Regions from separate parts of the Homo sapiens genome. Here region 2 is linked to region 1. The links come from fine-mapping of genetic effects on gene expression. Tissue or cell type: nasal epithelium. Region 1 holds a variant in brackets; the other region holds the start of a gene. All regions are shown on one strand. Distances are between the middles of the regions.

What was found. PIP is the estimated chance that this variant, and not a neighbour inherited with it, causes the effect.
Region 2: it holds the start of TADA2A, and the variant in region 1 is fine-mapped to the expression of TADA2A in nasal epithelium (TOPMed, PIP above 0.99). The same link has a PIP of 0.9 or more in amygdala, cerebral cortex, fibroblasts, hippocampus, hypothalamus and lymphoblastoid cells.

What each region holds. Positions count from the first base shown.
Region 1 is chr17:37,467,418-37,475,522 of GRCh38, forward strand. TADA2A (transcriptional adaptor 2A) reads left to right here. Exons shown (of 16, transcript NM_001166105.3): 12 at 37-108; 13 at 2,983-3,115; 14 at 3,677-3,720; 15 at 7,139-7,212. Among named protein-coding and RNA genes, the nearest start is that of DUSP14, 18 kb to the right of the region's middle. The variant G/A (reference allele first, on the strand shown) is at 4,184.
Region 2 is chr17:37,403,781-37,411,883 of GRCh38, forward strand. TADA2A (transcriptional adaptor 2A) reads left to right here and starts at 3,106. Exons shown (of 16, transcript NM_001166105.3): 1 at 3,106-3,169; 2 at 7,489-7,610. The coding sequence starts at 7,586. It overlaps ACACA (acetyl-CoA carboxylase alpha), which reads right to left and starts at 3,056. Exons shown (of 56, transcript NM_198834.3): 1 at 2,482-3,056. The coding sequence starts at 2,519. RefSeq lists an enhancer at 4,238-4,922.

The sequences.
Region 1 (8,105 bases):
TGTAATTTTTTCCTTCATTCCTTTTGGGGAAAACAGTGGAATTTGAACTCCGAAGGGAAATCAAGAGGCTCCAAGAATACAGGACAGCAGGCATTACCAATTTTTGTAGTAAGTATGCTTCAGCTACATACCGTACTTGAGGGCAAGTATCTTCCAGACACACAGAGGAAGTCTCTGAATTGTTGTGAATTTTTTTTTAAAAAACAAGCTTTCCTTTACCAGAATGCTTTAAACCTTTCCAGTAAAGTTTTGGCTATTTAATCCCTATAAATACCTTTGTATAGATTATCTTTGGTACTACAAAAGTTGTGAGACAAAGGAAAGAGAGGTGCTGCTTTAGATTTAGGATTCTGCCGAGGCTCTTTAAAAAAAGGGAATCTTGGGCCGGGTGCAGTGGCTCACACCTGTAATCCCAGCACTTTGGGAGGCCAAGGCAGGTGGGTCACTTCAGTCCAGGAGTTCGAGACCAGCCTGACCAACATGGTGAAACCCTACCTCTACTAAAAATAAAAAAACTAGCCAGGCGTTGTGGTGCACACGTTTAATCCCAACTACTCGGGAGGCTGAGGCACAAGAATCGCTTGAACCTGAGAAGCAGTTGTTGTAGTGAGCCAAGATGGTGCCACTGTACTCCAGCCTGGGTGGCAGAGGGAGATTCTGTTTCAAAAAAAAAAAAAAGGAATTTTATATTTTAGGTGTGTCACCCTTTTCAAATTTAATGATACATGGTCTTAGCATTTTTATAAAATAATGAAGCTTCAACTGGCTCCAGGTGCTTGCATCCCAGTTACTTGGGGTAGTGACAATAATTATATTATTAGCAGCTAACATCTATCAGATATTTACCATGTACCAGTCTCTATGCTAACCATTTCACTTGGATCAAGTCAATGAATTCTCATGACAAACTTATAAAGTACCGTTACTTCCATTTAGTGAAGAAATTAAGGTATAAAGAGGTTACAGAGCTAGTTAGTACTAGAACCAGGTCATAAGAGATAGTGTATTATAGTAGTTAAGAGCTTGGGTCTAGACTTAAAAAGCTTGAGTATAAATTTTGGCTCTCCAGCTTGCCAGCTCTGTGATGTGATTCTATCCAAATTTATTTTTCTTTCCTTTTTTTTTTTTCCCTAGAGACTGACTCTTGCTATGTTGCCCAGGCTGGTCTCAAACTCCTGGCCTCAAGCAGTCCTCCCGCCTAGGCCTCTCAGAGTGCTGGGATTACAGGTGTGAGCAACTGTGCCTGGCCTCTATTCAAGTTTTAATTTTCTAAGGTTCTTAGAGTTAGTGTAAAGATTTAATTAGAGATACTGCATATAAGCATAGCACAGTATCTGGCACACAATAATTCCTCAATAAATGGCAGTTTCTGTTGTTTTGCTGTCATTGTTGAAATGATCTTTAGCATTCCCTCCTTCTTCCTATTTGAAGTTTTTGTGATTATTGATAGTTGTCACCTACTATCTATAAGAAATAGTTGGCTTCTTTTTTTTTTTTATTTGAGACGGAGTCTGGCTCTGTTGCGCAGGCTGGAGTTCAGTGGTGCCATCTTGGTTCACCACAACCTCTGCCTTCTAGGTTCAAGCGAGTCTCCTGCCTCAGCCTCCTGAGTAGCTGGGACTACAGTCATGCACCACCATACCCGGCTAATTTTTTTTTTTGTATTTTTAGTAGAGATGGGGTTTATCCATGTTGGTCAGGCTGATCTCGAACTCCTGACCTCAGGTGATCCACCCACCTCAGCCTCCCAAAGCGCTGGGATTACAGGTGTGAGCCACCACGCCCGGCAATAGTTGGCTTCTTAACACAGCCCTGTGGGTGCAACATAGCCTTATGGATGTAAGTTCAGCCTAGTATAATGGCTCTTTAACAGTGGAAACCATTTTTGAAATTAAATTTTGTGTGAGCCCCAATCTACAAATAAGATAAAAGTGGGCTGGGCACGGTGGCTCACACCTGTAATCCCAGCACTTTGGGAGGCCGAGGCGGGCGGATCACTTGAGGTCCAGAGTTCAAGACCAGCCTGACCAACATGGAGAAACCCCGTGTCTACTAAAAATACAAAATTAGCTGGGCATGGTGGCGCATGCCTGTAATCCCAGCTACTCCGGAGGCTGAGGCAGGAGAATGGCTTGAACCTGGGAGGTGGAGGTTGCTGTGAGCCGAGATCGCGCCATTGCACTCAAGCCTGGGCAACAAGAGCGAAACTCCGTCTCAAAAAAAGATAAAAGTGGAATTACTTTGGTTGAACTTTAATGGTTCAATTTATGTGTAGAGCCCAGGACCCGCCGGTATCTGGCAGTGCCCTTTCTCTTTACATTAACCTCTAAGATACTCTTGTGGTATCCTGGGGCTCTGTGGAACCTAGTTTGAATTTTGAAACCCACTGGTGCAGTATTTTGGAATCTGTGAACCTTTGTTAACATGTAGAAAACACCACGCAGCTCTTCTGTTTAGCAAGATGCATATAGAGACTCTGATAACTAATTTTGGTTTCCTGATATTGGCTGCCTCTAAGAAATATGGAGAAGAGGTACTACATGTCAAAGAGAACTCTTTTTTTGTAATTCTAATTGTTTTTTAAGGAAAGGCATATGCTTATAGCACTTGTGTGACTTTGAAAAAATTTATAAAAATAGAAAAAACAGGAAGCAAATATGACTATAGTAAAAGTTGGTTACTTTTTGAGAGTGGAAATATGAGCAATTCTTACTTTCTTTGTACTTTTCTGTTGGTTTTTTTCCCCTTATTTCTTACAGATAGAAAAGGAATACAAATGTTTAATATTTAATACTTAGTATTAAGAAAAGGATTTCAGACTAGGGAAAATCTACTTGGGTCTTGGAGAAATAATTGTGAAAGCAGTTTTGCAAAGGAAACAGACTTTAAGAACAAAACCCAAAACCGGTTTCTTGGTCAGTTAGGAAGCCCTTCAGTTCTGCTGCATTGTCATTGTGGTCATTGTGTTTTCTATACCCCCAGGTGCCAGAACCTACGATCACCTCAAGAAGACACGGGAGGAAGAGCGCCTTAAACGCACTATGCTCTCAGAAGTTCTCCAGTATATCCAGGACAGTAGTGCTTGCCAGCAGTGGCTCCGCCGGCAAGCTGACATGTGAGTAATTACTCCAGGGTGAAGGAGGCATTCTTTCTGGGATGCCTTGGCCTTCACATATATTTTTGGGCACCCTAGATGGCAGAGTAATAATAATTGAGTAGCTGGAAGAATTCAGAAATATTTTAGCAGTCCATCTCAGAAACAGTGCCATACTGACAGTTTTGAGAAATAACTGACCTCCTAGAATCATACTTTACTACTTTGATCCTATTTTTTAAAATGAGTGTATTTTCCCCCAGCCTTCTACCCATGACTTCAACTCTCTCTTCATACCTAGATTTTCACTGGGGAATCATGTTTGTATCCCTTCCCCTTGAGTGGTGTTAGTGGTGTTCTAGATTACAAGCTCTTCTTAACAAATCTGAGGAATTTTTCTTCCTCAGAACAGATTTTCTTTCCTGCTCAATACAGTGAGATATCTGTAAAACATAGTTCAGTCTATCTCATTACACTTCTTCAAGGTGACCTACCTGATAAATGGCACCCAGTCTCACCGGGGCTTTTGGAAATCACCTTGTTTGATATGACCTAAGTTTAAATTCCTCTTCTTCGTTGTAGTGATTCCGGCCTGAGTCCTTCCATTCCAATGGCTTCGAATTCAGGTAATTATTTCTCAGGCCAGAACAAGTCTTAATTGTGAAGTTTGCATCGTAGGGGTTATAGTGACCCAGCAATCTTCCTTCCTCTGTGGTGTCAGGGTGCTTAGGCAGAGTAACAGTAATCAAGTGTTAGCCCAATATATAAACATCAGTATGTTTTCAGAACCTTCATGGCCAGACAGAGACTATCCTCAGAGTGACAGTATAGAGTATAGACAGTATAGAGACAGGGGAAAAAAGAACTTCAGAGAGGTAACTTCTTTATTTTACCAATGTTCATGAGCAGTTAGTTTACTGCAGTTGTGTCTACCACTAATTTTGAGACTTATTTCACAGGAGATAAATTAAAAGCTTTTTATTTTATTATTTTTTATTTATTTACTTATTTTTTGAGACAGAGTCTCGGTCTGTCGCCCAGGCTGGAGTGCAGTGGTGTGATCTCGGCTCACTGCAACCTCCGCTTCCC[G/A]GGTTCAAGTGATTCTTCTGCCCCAGCCTCCCGAACAGCTGGGATTACAGGCATGCACCACCACGCCTGGCTAATTTTTGTATTTTTGGTAGGGACGGTTTTGCCATGTTGGCCAGGCTGGTCTCGAACTCCTGACCTCAAGTGAGGCACCCACCACGGCCTCCCAAAGTGCTGGAATTACAGGCGTGAGCCACCGTGCCCAGCCTAAACTTTTTATTTTTATATAACATGAGCAAAGAAGCATGTTACTTGCCAGAAACATAAGGATTTCTGAGTTAGAGACCTAAAGTATTTCTATTTCTTCGTTTTACCTCTTTGAGTATGTCCTATTTTGAAATTAGTATACAGAGCAAGATTAAGCCATACGCTATCTGATGATCCTTGGTGATTGGTAATCGATGACTGGGAATTGGGGGAGGTATGTCTCAGTAGATTCAGAATCTGGGTCTCAGATTTGTCCGCGTTAGGGACTTTTTTTTTTTTGAGATGGAGTCTCGCTCTGTCACCCAGGCTGGAGTGCAGTGACGCGATCTTGGCTCACTGCAACCTCTGCCTTCCGGATTCAAGCGATTCTCCTGCCTCAGCCTCCCAAGTAGCTGGGATTAGAGGCGCCTGCCACTATGCCCAGCTGATTTTTGTACTTTCAGTAGAGATGGGGTTTCGCCATGCTGGCCAGGCTGGTCTCGAACTGCTGACCTCAGGTGATCTGCCTGCCTCGGCCTCCCAAAGTGCTGGGATTACAGGCATGAGCCACTGCGCCTGGTCACTGAAGGGACTTTTTTTTTTCCCCCATTTATTCCTTTATTTCAAGTGATTTTTTCTTAATATGGAAAGAAGAAAAAGGTATTGTTTTAGGGGAGTGGCTAAGACAGTGAAATCAAAGTTTTATTTTGTAAGTTTCTTACTGCCAACACTCTACCCCCAAAATCTAAATACAACTAAGTTAATACTGGCTAATTAAAATGAAGGAACTGGGTCAGGTGCAGTGGCTCATGCCTGTAATCCCAGCACTTTGAGAGGCTGAGGCGGGCAGATCACCTGAGGTTGGGAGTTTGAGACCAGCCTGACCAACGTGATGAAAACCCATCTCTCCTGAAAAAAAAATATAAAAATTAGCTGGGTGTGGTGGTACACATCTGTAATCCCAGCTACTCCAGAGGCTGAGGCAGGAGAATCGCTTGAATCCGGGAGGCAGAGGTTTCAGTGAGCCAAGATCGCACCATTGCACTCCAGCCTGGGTGACAGAGTTAAGACCATCTCAAAAAATAAATAAATTAATTAATTAAATTAAATGAAGGAACTGGCTAACATGATCATATATTTTTGTTCTCTGTACTATCTGCACTGACTTGTTCATTGTTTCTTTTTTCTTTTTTTGTGAGACAGGGTCTCCCTCTACTATCCAGGCTGGAGTGCAGTATGTGATCATGGCTCACTGTAGCCTCAAACTCCCAGGCCTAAGTGATCCTCCCAGTTCAGCTCCTGAGTGGCTGGGACTACAGGTGAATGCCACCAAACCTGGAGAAATTTTTTTTTTTTTTTTTTTTTTTTTGGTAGAAACAAGGTCTTACTATATCACCCAGGTTGGTCTTGAACTCCTGGGCTCAAGTGATCCTCCTGCTTCAGCCTCCCAAAGTGCTCAGATTACAGGTGTGAGCCTCTGCACCCGGCCTCTTGTTCATTGTTTGTTCCTAGCCTGTGTTAGCCTTTCTCACCCCTTATATTTAGGCTGAGGAGATCTCTTGCTCTCCTTTATGTTCTGAGTTCTTAAGGCAACTATGTATTGGAAGCCTGGCATCTTTGATTGTAGCCTAGCCTCTGGTGACTTTTGTGAGGAACCAAATGGTTTTATCTCCCTTTTTGAGGATTTGGAATAATCCCTTATGCCTTTTGTTGATGTAACAGAGAAGCCTGTTTTCCACCAGTGGAGCTTGTAACAGTCCCTCCCCTTTCTCTGCCCCACTTGAAAAGCAACCTCTATAAAACTTCGACATTTTCTTTGCTTAACTCAGTCTATCCATTCCCAGCTGAATACCAATCCCTAATACACATTCAAAACAAAACCAAAAAAGTTTTGCTCATCAAGCTTCCCCTCCTGGCCAGTGACCTCCTACTTGGGTTTCTTTCTCAGGTGTGTGAGTTGACCTCAGCCCCTGCTTTGCCATATAATGGCTCATTGTTCCTGTTTGTGGATCTTGCAGGTAAACAGGGCTACTTTGGAAGGAACAGATATTCCCTCACATAATAAAAAAGAAGGGCCTTTTGCTGGCCTAACAGTCTTTCTTTGATCTGAAGGCACACAGTACTTGGTTAATTACCATGTTTGCCTTGTACTGCTGGCCGAGTGGCAAGGATTAGGGAATGTCTGTTCTGCAGTTATTATTTCCATTCGTCAGCTGTCAAAGCAGGCATTGTGTGATGTTTCTTAACTGGATGACATCTGGGCATCAGATTTTAGAGTCTCCTACATGGTTAGGAAGAAATAGGTGATAGTCGGGCATGGTGGCATATGCCTGTCTTCCCAGGTAGTTGGGAGGCTGAGGCAGGAGGATCACTTGAGCCAGGGAGATTGAGGCTATAGTGAGCTATGATCGCAACACTGCACTCCAGCCTGAGCAACAGAGTGAGACCCTGTCTCAAAAATAATAATAATAAATAAGAGATAACTACTGTGGTGAGTAGTTACATTTGATGCTAAGGTATGTGTGACTGTATGTGTATTTTAGCAGATTATGGGTAATTCATGTGCCCTGAATATGTAATTCATTTTCAAGTGAATGTTCGGGTGCCCATGTTGTTAGCTAAACAGGCCTGAGGGAATGGGACAGGATTTCCTAAGCTGGATATAGTGATCCTATACCTAACTGGCCTGGCTGCACTGAACTTTTTAATACTTTACACCTGAGAAATTGTCACTCCTATTAAATCTATGCTGTTTCCTTTCTCTGTCTATAGGTAGACGGAGTGCACCACCCTTGAACCTCACTGGCCTCCCTGGCACAGAGAAGCTGAATGAAAAAGAAAAGGAGGTAACAAAAGGGAGGGGGCTGGGAGAAAGAGAATAGGGGCTGATTATTCATTGAGTTGTCATTAAAAATCCATTACAGGGTCAAACCCCTTTTGTTTCATTCATCTAACATATATGCACAGCTCTGGTGAATCCTAGAAGTCCAAGAGCTAAAGAGCCGTTTGTGGCAGATTTCAGAGAATTGCTTACCTTGTCACCCTACCACCATTCCTCTTTTGGGGAAAGCACATGTGGTATGTAGATGACATAATAATAGCAACTATCATCTATTGAGCACTTACCATGTGCTACTCTACTGAGTGCTTTATGTAAATAAAATTAATTTTTTGTAAACCTAAAGTAACTTCTACATGAAAATAGATATTTCCTATTAGAATGGCTGCCTTGAAAAGTTCTATACTTATTCCAACAACATAATCATTATTTAAAACATTTTTGTAAATTGTCTCCAGAGCATGTTTATAAACCTAAGGAAAAGATTTCTACATCATATATAGTCATGTTAATTTTGATTTTAAAAATTATTTTTTATTTTTATTTTTTTTTATTTATTTATTTTTTGAGACGGAGACTTGCCCTGTCACCCAGGCTGGAGTGCAGTGATGCGATCACAGCTCACTGCAGCCTCCACCTCCCAGGTTCAAGCGATTCTTCTGCCTCAGCTCCCCGAGTAGCTGGGACTGGACTATAGGCGCTTGCCACCATGCCTGGCTAATTTTTGTAGTTTTTAGTAGAGATGGGGTTTCACCATGTTGGCCAGGCTGATCTTGAACTCCTGACCTCATGATCCATCCACCTTGGCCTCCCAAAGTGTTGGGATTACAGGCGTGAGCCACCTCACCCGGCCTATTTTTTATTTTTTATTTGAAAGTCTCGCTCTGTTACCCAGGCTGG
Region 2 (8,103 bases), 64 kb before region 1:
TTGTTTTTTTGTTTTTGAGACAGACTCTTGCTCTGTTGAACAGGCTGGAGGGCAGTGGTGCGATTTCAGCTCACTGCAACCTCCACCTCCAGGGTTCAAGCAATTCTTGCGCCTCCCAAGAAGCTGGGATTACAGGCATGCGCCACCACACCCAGCTAATTGTTGCATTTTTAGCAGAGATGGGTTTTCGCCATGTTGCCCAGGCTGATCTTGAACTACTGGCCTCAAATGATCCATCTGCCTTGGCCTCCCAAACTGCTGGGATTACAGGAATGAGCCACTGTGCCTGGCCCCTGAATGCTATGTTTTTAACGACTAGATCTCAGTATTATGTGGGACTAATTTTTCTACAGTATTACAACACTGATTACTGATATTCATTGTTGACAATCATGACATCCAGATCTGGATATTTGCCTTAGCCAGTCTCAAAATTTGAGTTTCAATGACAAAGACACAGATATGTCCTAAATGACTGACCCCACTTCCACTATGTGAAGTTGAGAGTGGTTGTAAAGCTGTACAGCTATAGGTGAAACACTAATGTTAATCAACTATCTGTTGAACAACTACCATGTAAAAGGACAATTTATGCCTTAGAGAGCAATTTAAAATTTTTTTAGAGATGGGGGTCTCGATACGTTGCCTAGACTGGTCTCAAACTTGGGCTCAATCCATCCTCCTGCCTCAGTCTCTCGAGTAGCTGGGATTACAGGTACACACCACTTCACCAGGCAAAGGGCAATTTTAATATTTCTACCATCCATTCTCCACACAGCTGCCACAGTGATTTTTTTTTTTTTTTTTTTTTTGAGATGCAGTTTCACTCTGTTGCCCAGGCTTGAGTGTAGTGGCACAATCTTGGCTCACTGCAACCTCCACCTCCCAGGTTCAAGTGATTCTCCTACCTCAGCCTCCCGAGTAGCTGGGATTACAGGCGCCCGTCACAATGCCCAGCTAATTTTTTTTGTATTTTTAGTAGAGATGAGGTTTCACCATGTTGACCAGGCTGGTCTCGAACTTCTAACCTCAAGTGATCCGCCTGCCTCGGCCTCCCAAAGTGATGGGATTACAGGTGTGAGCCACCGCTCCCAGCCCACAGTGATCCTTTTACAGCAAAGCTACTCCTTTGCTCTCAACCCTTCGTCATATTCTGTCACTTCCCAATAAAATCCAAACCTTACCAGATGATACATGATCTGCCTTGATTTCCATCTAATTTCTCTCATTTGCTGTGCTCCAGCCACACTGGTCTTGCCCTTTCTCCATGCCAAACAAATCCCCATTTCAGGGTCACTGCACTTGCTGCTTCTCTTCTAGGATAGTTTCCCTCTAGAAATCCATGTTGCTCCTTCTCTCATTAAATGATCAGATATTTATGTGCCTCCTTAGCTAAGAGGCCTTCCTTATCTACCCTAACTAAGAGAATCCCCATATCACTCTTATCCTTTTATCCTGATTTATTTTTCCATAAAACTTGCCACATTACTGGGCATTATCTATCATTTAGTAATGTGTATATTGCTTATTGACAGTCTTCCCTACTATAATATGAGCTCCATGAGGCAGAGACTTTGTTTTGTTCACTGCTGAATTCCCAGCACCTACAACAAGCCTACTCACTAAACATTTGTTGAATTAATCTTCAGGATACATCAAATGTAAAATATCCTATCATATATTTATTGATGTGATGCATAGGAAAATGTCTGGAAGGGTACATACCAAAATGTTAATTATTTATTTAACCTGGTGGGAGGTGGTTTTTCTTTCCTTTTCTTTTCTTTTTGAGACAGAGTTTCGCTCTCGTTGCCCAGGCTGGAGTGGAATGGCAAGATCTTGGCTCATTGTAACCTCTGCCCCCAGGGTTCAAGCGATTCTACTGCCTCAGCCTCCGGAGTAGCTGGGATTACAGGTGCCTGCCACCACACCCGCGTAATTTTTTGTATTTTTAGTAGAGACGGGATTTCACCATGTTGGTCAGGCTGGTCTAGAACTCCAGACCCTGTGATCCGCCCGCCTCGGCCTGCCAAAGTGCTGGAATTACAGGCGTGAGCCACCGCGCCCGGCAGGGCTTTTTTTTTTTTTTTTTTTTGGAATGAACTTGTATTATGCATATACCAAAAAAGAATGAAAGGGTTCACACAGGCATAAAGTGTAAGTGAATTCTAAAAAAAGGTTGGGCAAATTTATCAAAGGCAGACTTCTAAATAGATGTAACAGTTATATAGTTCAGATAAACCATGGTTTGAATTCCCTTCCCCAGTACTTCCTAGCAGTGTGATCCCAAGTTATTTATGTCAGTGCCTAGATTTCTTCACCTGGAAAATAGGGATAACAACAGGTGCCTACCTCACAAGTTTTAAATGAGACCGTATGTGTAACCTGCTTTGTGCAATGTCTGGCATGCAATAAGTACTCGACAAATGGTAGCTATTAGAATCATCATTAACAGCAGTAATAAGAGATCTTGGGACATACCTAGCCCTCAAGATTGACATCAGAGTAGACCACCACATCCTCTCATCATTGCGCCTCAATTTGGGCCTCTGAAGCCCAAAGAGGGGATGGTTCTTTCCAAAGAAGACAATTTCGACGTTCCAGGAGCATCTGATTGAAACGCACCCTCTTCACCCCTTAAAATCAGTCTGGTTCATCCACGAGCAGCCCTTCGGGGCCCGGACTGGAGAGGCGCCACGGCTCGCCGTCCCTGGGCCCAGTTCCCTCAGCCTCAATTTCCCTTGCTGCAACAGGGGTGGAGATGGGAACGTTATCCCCAAACCCAGGCAGTCCCGGCTCGGCCCGCCTCACCGCACTCCGGAGGGGACCAAACAGCCCCACGCGCCAGGAAGCCTCAGGCAACGGGCCACGCGCCACACGGGCAAAGTGATTACTGGTCGGATCAAAAGTCAGGCAAGCGGCTCAGCCCCATCCTCCCAGTCCTCGGGCACGGGGACAGCAGCAGGCGCGCGGCGGGGACCGGGAAAAGGCCAAGAGGGCGGTGGCGGGCGCTCAGCACCCGGCGGGGGCCTCCACGGCCGAGGGGCGGAGGCGGCGGGCGCGCGGCACGCGGCGCGCTCGCCACTGCGCCGCCCGGGGGCGCGCACGCAAAGCCCGGAGGCGCGCGCGACCGGCGGCTCTTTGGCGCGGATTAGGGGGTCTCGGCGAGGTGAGGCGCCAGGCAGCGCTGGGCGGGCGGGCGGGCGGGTGGCGGAGCGCGAGCCCCTCTAGCGGGACTAGGGAGAAGCGGGGGCCACGAGGTGCGGCGGGGGAGGAGTCGCGGGCTGCGGGCCCCGGCGGCGGGCTTGACGCGGCAGGCTGGCGGGCCGGCGGGCGGGCAGCGGCGGGCCTCGCCGCTCTGTGGGGGAGGGCGGTGTGGGGCCGGGCCTGACCCCGGGGGCCCGCCCCGCGTCTGGGCGGTGCCCCAGTGCCCCGGCCTCGCCATTTCCCGCTCAGCCCTGGAGCGCGTAGCTCTACCAAGAATGGCCACTGTGCCAGATGCCCCTGACCAGCGTTGCCCATTTGAATTTCCTAGCAGGCCCCCCAAAGTAGGTATTTCAGTACCCTGTTAGAGCTGAGGCGCAGGTAAAATGACTGGCCCAGGCCGGTCCCACCCCGTAAGGATTTGAACGTTGGCTCCACAACTCGGGAGCCTGCGCCTTTCCTCCTCCCAACGTGGACTCCTGCCCGGCGAAGTGCCTCACTTCCTTCTCCCGGTAACTGATTCGAATTTGGCGATTGTTAGTTTGGAGCTAGCGCCAGTGTTTCCACGGAAGTTGGTGTCAGAATGTGGTCTCTTGTGAAAGGGGGAGAAAGAAGATTCTGCAGACTGCAATATTGTGCTTTTTTGCCTTTTTTTTTTTTTCTCCTAGGCTGTACTGCAGTGCAGTGGCACGATCGCGGCTCACTGCAATCTCCGCCTCCCAGGCTCAAGCGATTCTCGTGCCTGAGGCGTGGGCCACCACGCCCAGCTAATATTTGTATTTTCAGCAGAGGTGGGGTTTCACCATGTTGGCCAGGCTGGTCTCGAACTCCTGACCTCAAGTGATCCTTCCGCCTCGGCCTCCCAAAGTGCTGGGATTACAGGCGTGAGCCACCACGCCCGGCCCTACTATTTTTTTATTTTTTGAGATGGCGTTTCTTTCGCCCAGGCTGGAGTGCAATGGCGCCATCTCAACACACTGCAACTTCTGCCTCCCAGGTTCAAGCGATTCTCCTGCCTCAGCCTCCCGAGTACCTGGGATTACAGGCGCCCGCCACCACACCTGGCTATTTTTTGTATTTTTAGTAGAGATGGGGTTTCGCTGTGTTGGCCAGGTTGATCTCGAACTCCTGACCTCAGGTTATCTGCCCACCTGGGACTCCCAAAGTGCTGAGATTACAGGCGTGAGCCACCGCACCCGGCCTCCTACTGTGCTTTTTCGAGTGTTGATCAGTCCCTATTGACTGTGCATCCTTTACTGGACGTCTGTTTTTGTTTTTGTTTTTTGAGAGGGAGTTTCACACTTGTTGCTCAGGCCAGAGTGCAACAGCGCGTTCTCAGCCCACCGCAACCTCCACCTCCCGGGTTCAAGCAGTTCTCTTGCCTCAGCCTCCCAAGTAGCTGGATTACAGGCATACGCCACCACGCCCAGCTAATTTTGTATTTTTAGTAGAGACAGGGTTTCTACATGTTGGTCAGGCTGATCTCGAACTGCCGACTTCAGGTGATCTGCCTGCCTCGGCCTGCTAAAGTGCTGGGATTACAGGCGTGAGCCACTGCGTCCAGCCTTGACATCTGTATTTGAAATGACACAGCTATCCCTTGTAAGACACTGCGCAAGTAACATACTCTTTCAGAGCTTGCTTGCTTTTGAAAAAGCAGCTTGCCCCAAAAGTGTGGGAGTGAGGATTCAAAGAATCCCCACACCTTGGTACCCACGGGTACCTAGCAAATTGAAAAAGTTCAGTAAATTTGGCAGTTATTTGATTGCTGCGTTCGTAATACACCCTTGCTAGACTCATTTTTCTTCAGAGCTCAACTTTTCCTGAGAGGACAGCAAAGGGAGACCTACCCCACCCCAAAAAGGGAAAGTTCTTTGATGGCAGCGTTAGCAGAAATGTTGCCCACACTTAGTGATGAATTATTCTCCAAGCTAAAAATTACCAGGGTGAAAAAAATCACTTCAGAAAAGCTAAAGATAAATTAACCTTTTGTAGAATTAACATTTATTAGTCCACTACTATGTGTTTATTGTATTCCTCCTGTATGCTTGGCATTTTAAAAGCATACAGATAGGTATCCGATATAGTCTCTGCTTTCACTTATTTATTATTTATTTTTGAGACAGGATCTTGCACTGTCGCCCAGGCTGGAGTGCAGTGGCACAATCTCGGCTCACTGCAACCTCCACCTGCCTGGTTCAAGCAACTCTCATGCCTCAGCCTCCCGAGTAGCTGGGATTATAGGCGCCCGCCACCACGCCAAGCAAATTTTTTTGTATTTTTGGTAGAGACGGGGTTCTCACTATGTTGCCCAGGCTGGTCTGAAACTCCTGACCTCTGGAGATTCATCTGCCTCAGTCTCCCAAAGTGCTGGAGTTACAGACATGAGCTACCACACCCAGCCTGCTTTCACTTAATTTAGAAGTGGGGGAAAATAGACATTCAGAAGTAATACTCACAAAGTAGAATGTGAAAAATGCCAGATAAAAAGCTGTGAGTGGGCCGGGTGCGGTGGCTCATGCCTGTAATCCCAGCACTTGGGGAGGCTGAGGTGGGCAGATCGCCTGAGGTCAGGAGTTCGAGACCAGCCTGGCCAACATGGTGAAACCCCGTCTCTACTAAAAATACAAAAATTAGCCAGGCCTGGTGGCCCGCGCCTGTAATCCCAGCTAATTGGGAGGCTGAGGCAGGAGACTCGCTTGAACCCGGGAGGCGGAAGTTGCAGTGAGCTGAGATCGTGCCATTGCATTCCAGCCTAGGCAACGAGAGCGAGACTTAGTCTCAAAAAAAAACAAAAACAAAAACAAAAAGCTGTGAGTGTACAGAAGAAGGATTATTTTTTGACTTAGTGTAAAATATTATTTTATTTCTGCTTCAAAGAAGATACTTTGGGCCAGGCATGGTGGCTCACACTTGTAATCCCAGCACTCCAGCACTTTTGGAGGCCGAGGTGGGCGGATCACTTGAGGCCAAGAGTTCGAGACCAGCCTGGCCAACATGGTGAAACCCTGTCTCTCCTAAAAATACAAAACAATTAGCCAGGTATGGTGGTGGCACATGCTTGTAATCCCAGCTTCTCAGGAGGCTGAGGCACAAGACACAAGAATCAAAAATGAGAACCAAATGGAGAATGAGAATCCCTTGAACCTGGGAGGCAGAGGTTGCAATGAGTACTCCAGCCTGGGCAACAGAGCCAGACTGTGTCTCCAAAAAAAAAAGAAAAAGAGACTTAGTCTGTCCTCCAAGCTGGAGTGCAGTGGTGGCTCACTGCATCCTCGACCTCCTAGGCCCAAGCGTTCCACCTCATCCTCCTGAGTAGCTGGAACCATAAGCATGGGCCACTGTACCCGGCTAACTTTTTTTTTTTTTTTTTAAGAGATGGGGTCTCCCTATGTTGCCCAGGCTGGTCTTGAACTCCTGGGTCCCAGTAATCCTCCCACGTCAGCCTCCCAGAGTGCTGGGATTACAGGCATGAGCCACTGTGCCTGGCCCTGTTACGTACTTGTTGAAAGAGTGAGGAACAAATGTATGTTGTAATAGATAGGATTTTTTGGTTTCCAGTTACAGAAACTCGTTCAGTCTTATGATTAAAGTTGAGTTTATTAAAGTTTATTAAAGAGAGAGAAATGAGAGAAGAGTTAAACAGTTGAGCCACCTGGGGCTAGGGATTTCAACAGCCAGAGCACATGGACTGAATTCTTTGAATGAATTCTAGTGAATAACTAAGCTCCAACTGCCTTCTGTCCTTTCATGTCTTACTCAAGATCCAGATTTCTGGAAGAAGAGACCTGGTTGCTTTAGCTTTTGTCAGGGGTGGGGAATGGGGTATTGTGATTGGCAGCCCCACCAGTATCACATGAAATGTGGGAGGGTCAGTTTCCCAAATAAAGATGGCAGCTAAGGAGAGAAATGATGCTGAGTAGAGAAAGCCAACAGTTGTTTATTAGAAATATGTAGCATTTGCCCCTGCCACCCTCAGTGCCCCATAGACCCAGATCCTTCCTCATAAAAAAGAAAAATATGTAGCATTTATAGAGGACCAGGTACCATGCTACATTACTTATATGGATTATGATATTTGATTATAACATTTAATTCTCACAACTTTGGAAGGTAGGCACTGTTATACCCACTACAGAGGAAGAAACAGGTTTTCAGAGGTGGAATAATTTTTCAACATTACAAAGCTAAGATGTGGCAGAGCTGAGTATGTTGCATATCTTCTCTTTATCTTGTCCCTTTGAATGATTTTCTGATCCATGTGCCACTTTTGTTTGTTCCTAGGGAGTCATCAAGCTTTGGTGTATGTGTTGGCCGGTTCTGAAGTCTTGAAGAAGCTCTGCTGAGGAAGACCAAAGCAGCACTCGTTGCCAATTAGGGAATGGACCGTTTGGGTTCCTTTAGCAGTAAGTACAGTGGGAACAAGTCTCAGGTGACTTATTATTATTTTTTTTTTGAGATGGACTCTCCCTCTGTTGCCCAGGCTGGGGTACAGTGGCATGATGTTGGCTCACTGCAACTTCTGCCTCCCGGCTTTAAACGGTTCTCCTGCCTCAGCCGCCTGAGTAGCTAGGACTACAGGCGCGCACCACCACACACAGCTAATTTTTTTTATTTTTATTTTTAGTAGAGATAGGGTTTTACCATGTTGGCCAGACTGGTCTTGAACTCCCGACCTCAGGTGATCCACCCACCTCGGCCTCCCAAAGTGCTGGGATTACAGGTGTGAGCCACCACTCCCGGCCTTCAGGTGACTATTAATAGCAAACTAGAGTGGAAGTTGATCAAGGAAGAAAAATAAACGATGAAGTTAGGCAATAAAGCCCTTTGACTCTGATTCTAAGGGAATTATGAGTATCAAAATAAAATCAATTAATACATATTGATTACCCATTGAAC